Homo sapiens: one gene and its partner. The protein of the gene in region 1 purifies or fractionates together with the protein of each later gene. This does not show direct contact. Each region holds a gene or a part of one and is shown in the gene's direction. Other genes may lie near its edges.

Region 1 (4,281 bases):
CTGAGTATGAAAGAAGGTGACCCAGCCATCTATGCCGAAAGGGCTGGCTATGATAAACTGTGGCACCCAGCTTGTTTTGTCTGCAGCACCTGCCATGAACTCCTGGTTGACATGATTTATTTTTGGAAGAATGAGAAGCTATACTGTGGCAGACATTACTGTGACAGCGAGAAACCCCGATGTGCTGGCTGTGACGAGGTATGTTCTATGGGACCACCGGCATGCTGGTGCCCTCTTAGACCCTCATATGGTCCCTTTACCTAGAAGGCAACAAGACTTGACCAAACAGCAGTTGCTCTGTTTACATCCAAAGAAGTTTTAAAAAATAAACTTCTGATATCATTCATTCTGTCTGTGTTAATTGGGTTGACAAATGAAAGACTAGAAATATAAAAGATTGATTTAGACTAAACTAAGTGATAGCATAAGTTCAAGCTTTAGGTTATCATTTTCAAACTTTAGACCCTGAGAAAGTATGTTGTTACAGATATAAATCTCTTATTATATAAAAATCCATCTTTATTTTTATCTTCTTCCTAGCTGATATTCAGCAATGAGTATACCCAGGCAGAAAACCAGAATTGGCACCTGAAACACTTCTGCTGCTTTGACTGTGATAGCATTCTAGCTGGGGAGATATACGTGATGGTCAATGACAAGCCCGTGTGCAAGCCCTGCTATGTGAAGAATCACGCTGTGGTGAGAAGTGTTCTAAGGATATGGTTGCCTCAGCCTGCTTTAGGACTTGAGTTTATGCTTTTCTTAAAGCCTCTTACAAATGGGAAACAGAAAGCAGTCCTCCTAAGTAGAAAGCAAATTATTCCTACCACAGGGTGTTAAAATCAAGGCAATTCAAAAACAATACATGCATTGACTATGAGCCACCTCAAGATTTCTACTTGTGAAATTTACAATATCAATTATAGGTACTGCTTAATAATAAAATCCTCACTTAAAAAAATTCTTAATGGGAATGAGATTGTTTTATTTTCATGGTTAGCAATCAGATTCCATTTCAATAAAGGTGTCTAGGGGCTATTGATATTCTTTAGCTCTATTTGAATATGATGCTTTCTGTTTGTGTTATTGGACCACCCACTGGAATTTTGTTTTTGCTACCTGGAGATTGTAAGATACCTATTTCTTAAACCCTCATTGAATTGATTTAGCATAACAAAACTTGGCCTGCGTATTTAGATTTTTGTGTGGGCCAAACATTCCAATGTGAAAGTATATTTTTTCTTGCATTTACTCTGCTTACACAGAGCTGCTGTTGTATAATGGCCAAGTGATGGTAATGTAGATAAAGGGTAAAAAGTTGACCATAGATGGTAAAGTGTATAATCCAGGAGTATCCAAATAGACATTTACTTCTTTATATGCAGCAAAACACATATGTGTTAATGGTCCCCTGAGCTATCAAGTAAAAGGGACTCCTGGCTAAGGAATGAAATTACATATGGTTTATATAGTTATATATAGTTATAAGAGTGTGGTACTGTGAAGATAAGGTAACAAGTTTTTATGTCAATGCCAATTTTCAGCGTTCACCCATTGCCCCAGATACAGTTATTCATTCTCTATCAACTGTGCCTCACCAATATATTTCACATTCTTATAATTACAACCATTCTACTTTAGACCTTTTTTTTTGTTGTTATTTTGACTATTGCAGTGGCCTCAAATTTCGTTCCTCCACTTTCATTCATCTTGCTCAAAAGCTACCCACCATAATGATGGAAAATTATCTTCCTAAAATGCAAATTATTAAACTTTTGATAGATCTGGCCCCTTCTTGCCTCTCCTGTCCCTTCTACTAGTTATCCAACGCAAATCATACATTTCCACACGTTCACCATCATTTTCTAGTTTACACACTGTTGTCTTTTGCTTACTCCTAATAGTTTTTCTAATACACCGTACTTTTCCCTGTTTTACCTGACTGTACCTACACATTTATTCCTTTAGATTCAGTTTAGGTTTAACTTTTTTTCGGAACACCTTTCCTGATTCACTATGCCCAAACTCCACCATTTCCTCCAGACTCTCCATGTTCCCAATGGTGTGTGTGTGGGTGGGTGTGTGGGGGTGTGTGTGTGTGTGAATATCATTCATCTGTCTCCTTCACTAGACTGTAAGCAGCTGGAGGGTAGAGCTTGCCTTATATCTTGCTTTCTATATCTTCAGTGTCAGCACTTAGAAAATGTTTGAGTGACTGACTCGTGTTCTTAATATTTCTCGCTTTGGGGTTACCATGGTCATTCCTTTACCTAGGGAACAAGACGTCAAATCACCATGTAACCTGATACATTATTTAGCTAAAAACTGCTTCAATGAATATTGTTGCAACAGTTTTTCTACAGACTAAAGGTATTATAATGTATACCTTTTTTTTTGCTGCTGTCTGACCTTTAGTCTCAAGGACTAGAATGTAACTCCATCAGGGCAGGGATTTTTTTATCTGCCTTTTCTATTCTGTTCCCAACACTAGGACAACATAGGTGCTCAATAAAAATTTATTGAAACAGATGAAACTGCTTTTTTTTCTTTTTTTAGCTGTTACAAGCTTCTCTGTATTACATTGTTTCTAATCAATGGCAGGGTATAACCACAGATATGATTTGTTTAAATAAAAGAATTTTCAAATTATTTAGTTTTATAGCATAGCATCATTTTGGCCAGGCATGGTGGCTCACGCCTGTAATCCCAGCACTTTGGGAGGCCAAGGTGGGCGAATCATGAGGTCAGGAGTTCGAGACCAGCCTGGCCAACATGGTGAAACCCCGTCTCTATTAAAAATACAAAAAAATTAGCTGGGCGTGGTGGCAGGTGCCTGTAATTCCAGCTACTTGGGAGGCTGAGGCAGGAGAATTGCTTGAACCTGGGAGGTGGAGGTTGCAATGAGCCGAGATCCTGCCACTGCACCCCAAGCCCAGGTGATTGATAGTGCGACACTCCGTCTCAAAAAAAATATATATATATGTGTGTGTGTGTGTGTGTGTGTGTGTGTGTGTGTGTGTAGCATCATTTCTTTTATGTTTACTTTCTCAGTGGGATATACCATTGGCCTTTGCCTAATATTAAAATGAGCATACATATCCATTGCCAGAACAGATTCCAGCTAACAGCAAAGAGAGCTACCCACACAGCATGCTACATTATATAAAATTTGGAGAAGGTTATCTAGTTCAGGGCATTGATCTGCTTAGATCTTTTCATCTTAAAGAGAGAAAATACAAATTATTTTTAGACCTGAAATCAAGTGCTCAACTCCAAACAACATTTCTGAGAAAAAAAAAAAAAAGTACCTGGAAGGAAAAAACATGGCAGATGCACCTACTTTGTCTCTGTGTAGTCACTAGAACTCCATAGTTACCCCCAGAATTCACATCCGTCAGATTCATAGGACACTCCTGCAGAGAGCTCATTACAACAGGTGTCATTAGCTCTTTTACATCCTGTGTACAAATAAGAAGAGGGATTGAAGGAAATAAGAATTCTTTGAAATATTAAAGGTTTAGGAACATGGGAAGATCAAATGGCAGGCAGGAAGTGGTGAAGCACATCATCTCCCTGAAGGGTTCTGCAGTCCCCAGGCCCTTGGCGCAGCCTGGGCCAATTTTAGATTTTTGAGGAATTAGGGAACAGTAGATTCGACCTGTGATTACATGTCAGATTTTGAATGAATGGTAATCAAATTATTAGTAAAATGAAATTTTATGAAACCCCAGACTTTAATTCTCTATACCATTTATGTGTACTAATTATCTTTTTGCTTAATTTTCTTAATTTCATGTGTAATTGAACATTAGTTATCTCTTTTTTGTAAATTGCAACTGAAAATGTGTGTTTTGGGTAATTTTAAAAAATCACAGGTCTGAGAAAAAGAAGATAGATCATGGTCTGAAAGCAAGGGAATAAAACACACGGTGTATTTTACAAGAACACATTCAAAATACATAAACAAGAAATATTGAAAGACTGTTCTTATCACAAGGAAATCATAAATGTTTAAGGAGAGGGATATCCTAATTACCCTGATTTGATCACTACACTATGTATACATGTATTGAAACATCACATAGTACACCCATAAATATGTACAATTATGTGTTGATCATAAATTTTAAAATGGAAAGATTAATATGAAATGCAGAAAATAAGACATTCTAAATGCATAATAAAGCTATAAAAATATATACAAAAAGCAGTTGCTTGCATGGTGCAGCTGCACATTAGAAATGTGCTTGTAATTGAAACGTTCATTTTTATAGTATTCAG
Region 2 (4,281 bases), on another chromosome or scaffold:
GACAGGGCGAAGGCCCTTGAGAAGTTCAGGGAGAGCTTCCCAGGCAGGTGCAAAGGTGTGGAGCGCAAGGCAAGTTTGATGTGGCTGGAGGTGGCCACAATGAGGAAGGCGGTGGAGGGTGTGGCCTGGAGATGGAGAAGAGGTCACAAGGTCCCAAAATGGCCGTGGTCGAATCCTCTGGCTTGACCAGTGGCATGGGAGGAGTGGGTGATGAGGGTGATGGGATGCAGGTTTTGGTAACTGGGGGGACAGTGGGGCACCCACTGGGCACAGGAGGACTGGGTGCATAGGCAGGAAGCTGGCCGTGGACTTGCTGAACTTATGCGAGGGGTGAACAAGGAAAGGCCCGGGAGGCAGTTGCACCTCTGGGTCTTGCCCTGGAGGCAGAGCCTGTCACTGGCGCCACAGCCCCGGGACGGGGCCTCCTGGGGAGCATGTGGTGTGTGAGGAGCTGGGGAGGAAGAGGACAGGAGAGCAAGATGGCTTGGAAGCCCAGGGAACGAGCAGCAAGGCGGGAGCATGCCCGCTGGACTCAGCTGGGAGGAGTGACTTAGAGTGCCAGAGTGTGGTCTGTTGCGGTCAAGGCCCTCTTTCGAGAAGCGTGGACGAGGGGCAAGGGTGACTGCTGTGGGCCACGCTGCTGGAGAAAAAGGCTGAGCCCTGTTCTAGGCTGCGGGGAGGCAGGAAGGGTGGCCTTCAGCACATGCTTTGGTGTAAACAAGTATGGAGGGAGCAGGCCCAGCCCGTGACAGCTTAGGGGGCTCTGCTGGAGTGAGGAGAGGGCTGAGGGACGGGGAAGTGCCCCTCTGCAGGGAGGCCCAGAAGCTGTGCTGGCCCAGGGCAGCATCTTCAGCCTTTTCTCTTTCAGCCTTTTCTCCTCTGCCTTCCCTGTCTGTGCTGCATGGTGACCCCCTCCCACCCGCCTCTGTCCTGCAGACCAACATCGCCTTCCTGCAGAATGTGCTCAACAACCAGCAGTTCCTGGCAGGCACTGTGGACACCCAGTTCATCGACGAGAACCCAGAGCTGTTCCAGCTGCGGCCTGCACAGAACCGGGCCCAAAAGCTGTTGCACTACCTCGGTCTGGCCCGAGACTGCCCTGCCCTGCCCTCCCCTCCCCTCCGCTCTCCAATCTCTTGCTCCTACCTCCTTGCCACTCCCCATGACCAAAGAACTCCTTAGTGCCCCCTGCCCCTCACCCCTGCCCTCATTCTGGCCCTGCGTCCTCTTGTCCTGCACCCTGCCATTCACTGCTCTCCTTGCTTCTGATCTGAGAGACCCCACCTTTCCATCCACGTGGTCCTCAAGACGTCCCCACTGCCTGTACCCAGGAGGCCCTGGCTTTGGAGAGGACAGGGGCCAGCTGGAAGCCCGGGGATCCTGGAGGGATGTGTCCCTGTCCCTGAGCCCAGCCACTCTCACTGCTGCCCTCGACTCAGCCTCTGCCCAGCCCACCCTGACCCACTGCCCGCTTTCTCCCCAGGCCATGTCATGGTAAACGGTCCAACCACCCCGATTCCCGTCAAGGCCAGCCCCAGCCCCACGGACCCCGTTGTCCCTGCAGTGCCCATAGGTAGGTGAGATCCATTCTGTCAACTCATGGGGGAGACAGGAGGTTGCCACCTGCAGGATGGGCACCAATGCCCCTGTCTACCCTAGGCCCGCCCCCGGCTGGTTTCAGAGACATCCTGCTGCGAGAGGGGCCTGAGGGCTTTGCTCGAGCTGTGCGGAACCACCCGGGGCTGCTGCTGATGGACACGACCTTCAGGGACGCCCACCAGTCACTGCTGGCCACTCGTGTGCGCACCCACGATCTCAAAAAGATCGCCCCCTATGTTGCCCACAACTTCAGCAAGCTCTTCAGCATGGAGAACTGGGGAGGTAGGCTGGCATGCTGCGCAGCGCCTGGTAGGAATGGGCGCCCGCTCTGTGGCCAGTCCCACAGGCTTAGGCCACTGGGGACAAGCTAGAGACGCTGACACGAAGAACACCAAAGAGGAAGGACCGAAGAAGGCACAGCGCCCTCTCCGGCCAGGCCTGGTGCCGGCACGAGGTTGCAGAGCTGAGACCAGGTGCATCCTGGGAGGTCCAGGGTCAGGAGGAGACACCTGCCTGTTAATTATAGCACAGAGAGGTAGAGGAGAAGATGGGATTATAAAGGGGGCATAGAAGGGACACAAATGAGCCTGGTCTCCCCCTTAGAGATCAGACAAGGGAAAAATCTGTGGGGGTTGGAGCAGGGAACACAGGTATGGCGAAGATGAGCAGGACCTGGTATTGGGGCCAGAGGCTTGTGCTGCAGAGCTAGCTCCAAGGCCTGGTGGAGTTCCCCAGGCATGCAGAGCTGATCTGGGCCTCTCGGTTCCTGTGCAGGAGCCACGTTTGACGTCGCCATGCGCTTCCTGTATGAGTGCCCCTGGCGGCGGCTGCAGGAGCTCCGGGAGCTCATCCCCAACATCCCTTTCCAGATGCTGCTGCGGGGGGCCAATGCTGTGGGCTACACCAACTACCCAGACAACGTGGTCTTCAAGTGAGCCTGGGGTGGGGTGGGCAGACGCTACCTGGTGTGGCCCAGAGGGTACCGAGCCATGTCGTGATGGCCTCTGTTCTCCACGGTCAGCCTGACACCAAGTCTCTCTGTGGCCACACGCAGCAGGGGCTGCTGTTTGGAAATATCGAGAAGTGTAAAATTGGAGTTGCAGAACCAGACAGGCTTCTAAATCACTCCCTCACTCCTGGGGCAGTGGAAGGTCTGAGACTTGCCTGGGTCACTCGGTGCAGGGCTGGGATTGGAACCCAGGCCTCAAGACTCCTTGCTCAGTACCCTCTTCCACAGCCTGCCACTGGCCTAGCTGATCCTCCAGGGCCTGGTCCACACTTGTGTGGCCACCCCCCGCCTGTGGATGCCACACCCCCTGCCAGGCGAGACCCTCAGATCTCATTCCCCAGGGGCCATAGAGTGGGTCAGGAAGGAGCCAGGGAAGACTGTTCAGAGGGAGGTGGGGTGGGGCTCAGCCCTGGGCTCTCTCACCCTTGCAGGTTCTGTGAAGTGGCCAAAGAGAATGGCATGGATGTCTTCCGTGTGTTTGACTCCCTCAACTACTTGCCCAACATGCTGCTGGGCATGGAGGCGGCAGGAAGTGCCGGAGGCGTGGTGGAGGCTGCCATCTCATACACGGGCGACGTGGCCGACCCCAGCCGCACCAAGTACTCACTGCAGTACTACATGGGCTTGGCCGAAGAGCTGGTGCGAGCTGGCACCCACATCCTGTGCATCAAGGTGCCTGGGCCACTTGTCCGTCCCTCCCTCTCTGCCCCGGCCATGTCCCCGCCACCCACAGGCACACATCCTGCCCTCTCTACCATCTCTCTCTCTCTCTCTCCCACTTCCCCCAGGACATGGCCGGGCTGCTGAAGCCCACGGCCTGCACCATGCTGGTCAGCTCCCTCCGGGACCGCTTCCCCGACCTCCCACTGCACATCCACACCCACGACACGTCAGGGGCAGGCGTGGCAGCCATGCTGGCCTGTGCCCAGGCTGGAGCTGATGTGGTGGATGTGGCAGCTGATTCCATGTCTGGGATGACTTCACAGCCCAGCATGGGGGCCCTGGTGGCCTGTACCAGAGGGACTCCCCTGGACACAGGTAGGAAGAACAGCAGCCCGTGGCCACACCCCTCTCAAAGCCGCAGCCACCACCAGTCCCAGTAGTGTTGGACCTGCCTAGGATCCAGATGCCCTGCTCTGGCCTTGCCGCCTTCTGTCACCTGAGTCAGACATGGGACCTGAGCTAGCCCTGGGTCCTGGAAGAGTCACACATTTCTAAGGCCTCCTCTGACTCTGGCCTCCCTGCAGAGGTGCCCATGGAGCGCGTGTTTGACTACAGTGAGTACTGGGAGGGGGCTCGGGGACTGTACGCGGCCTTCGACTGCACGGCCACCATGAAGTCTGGCAACTCGGACGTGTATGAAAATGAGATCCCAGGGGGCCAGTACACCAACCTGCACTTCCAGGCCCACAGCATGGGGCTTGGCTCCAAGTTCAAGGAGGTCAAGAAGGCCTATGTGGAGGCCAACCAGATGCTGGGCGATCTCATCAAGGTGAGCCCGGCCCGGTGCTCCTTACCTGACCCAGCCCTGCATGCACCTGCCACTGGCCTCCTTGAGGTGCCTGGCACCCTAACCTCCAGGGCCTTCTCCTCAGGTGACGCCCTCCTCCAAGATCGTGGGGGACCTGGCCCAGTTTATGGTGCAGAATGGATTGAGCCGGGCAGAGGCCGAA

What was found. The genes of interacting proteins can lie anywhere in the genome.
Region 2: the proteins of TES (region 1) and PC purify together in Homo sapiens (affinity purification with mass spectrometry, with the first as the bait; one large-scale study listed by BioGRID). This does not show direct contact.

The regions. Positions count from the first base shown.
Region 1 is NC_000007.14:116,251,778-116,256,058, forward strand, and holds part of TES (testin), read left to right. Parts: coding exon 1-198; intron 199-540; coding exon 541-699; intron 700-3,340; exon of another isoform or gene 3,341-4,281. UniProt on the Homo sapiens protein: Scaffold protein that may play a role in cell adhesion, cell spreading and in the reorganization of the actin cytoskeleton. Plays a role in the regulation of cell proliferation. May act as a tumor suppressor. Inhibits tumor cell growth.
Region 2 is NC_000011.10:66,850,039-66,854,319, reverse strand, and holds part of PC (pyruvate carboxylase, mitochondrial precursor), read left to right. Parts: intron 1-936; coding exon 937-1,081; intron 1,082-1,483; coding exon 1,484-1,573; intron 1,574-1,659; coding exon 1,660-1,881; intron 1,882-2,373; coding exon 2,374-2,530; intron 2,531-3,039; coding exon 3,040-3,280; intron 3,281-3,396; coding exon 3,397-3,646; intron 3,647-3,855; coding exon 3,856-4,100; intron 4,101-4,203; coding exon 4,204-4,281. UniProt on the Homo sapiens protein: Pyruvate carboxylase catalyzes a 2-step reaction, involving the ATP-dependent carboxylation of the covalently attached biotin in the first step and the transfer of the carboxyl group to pyruvate in the second.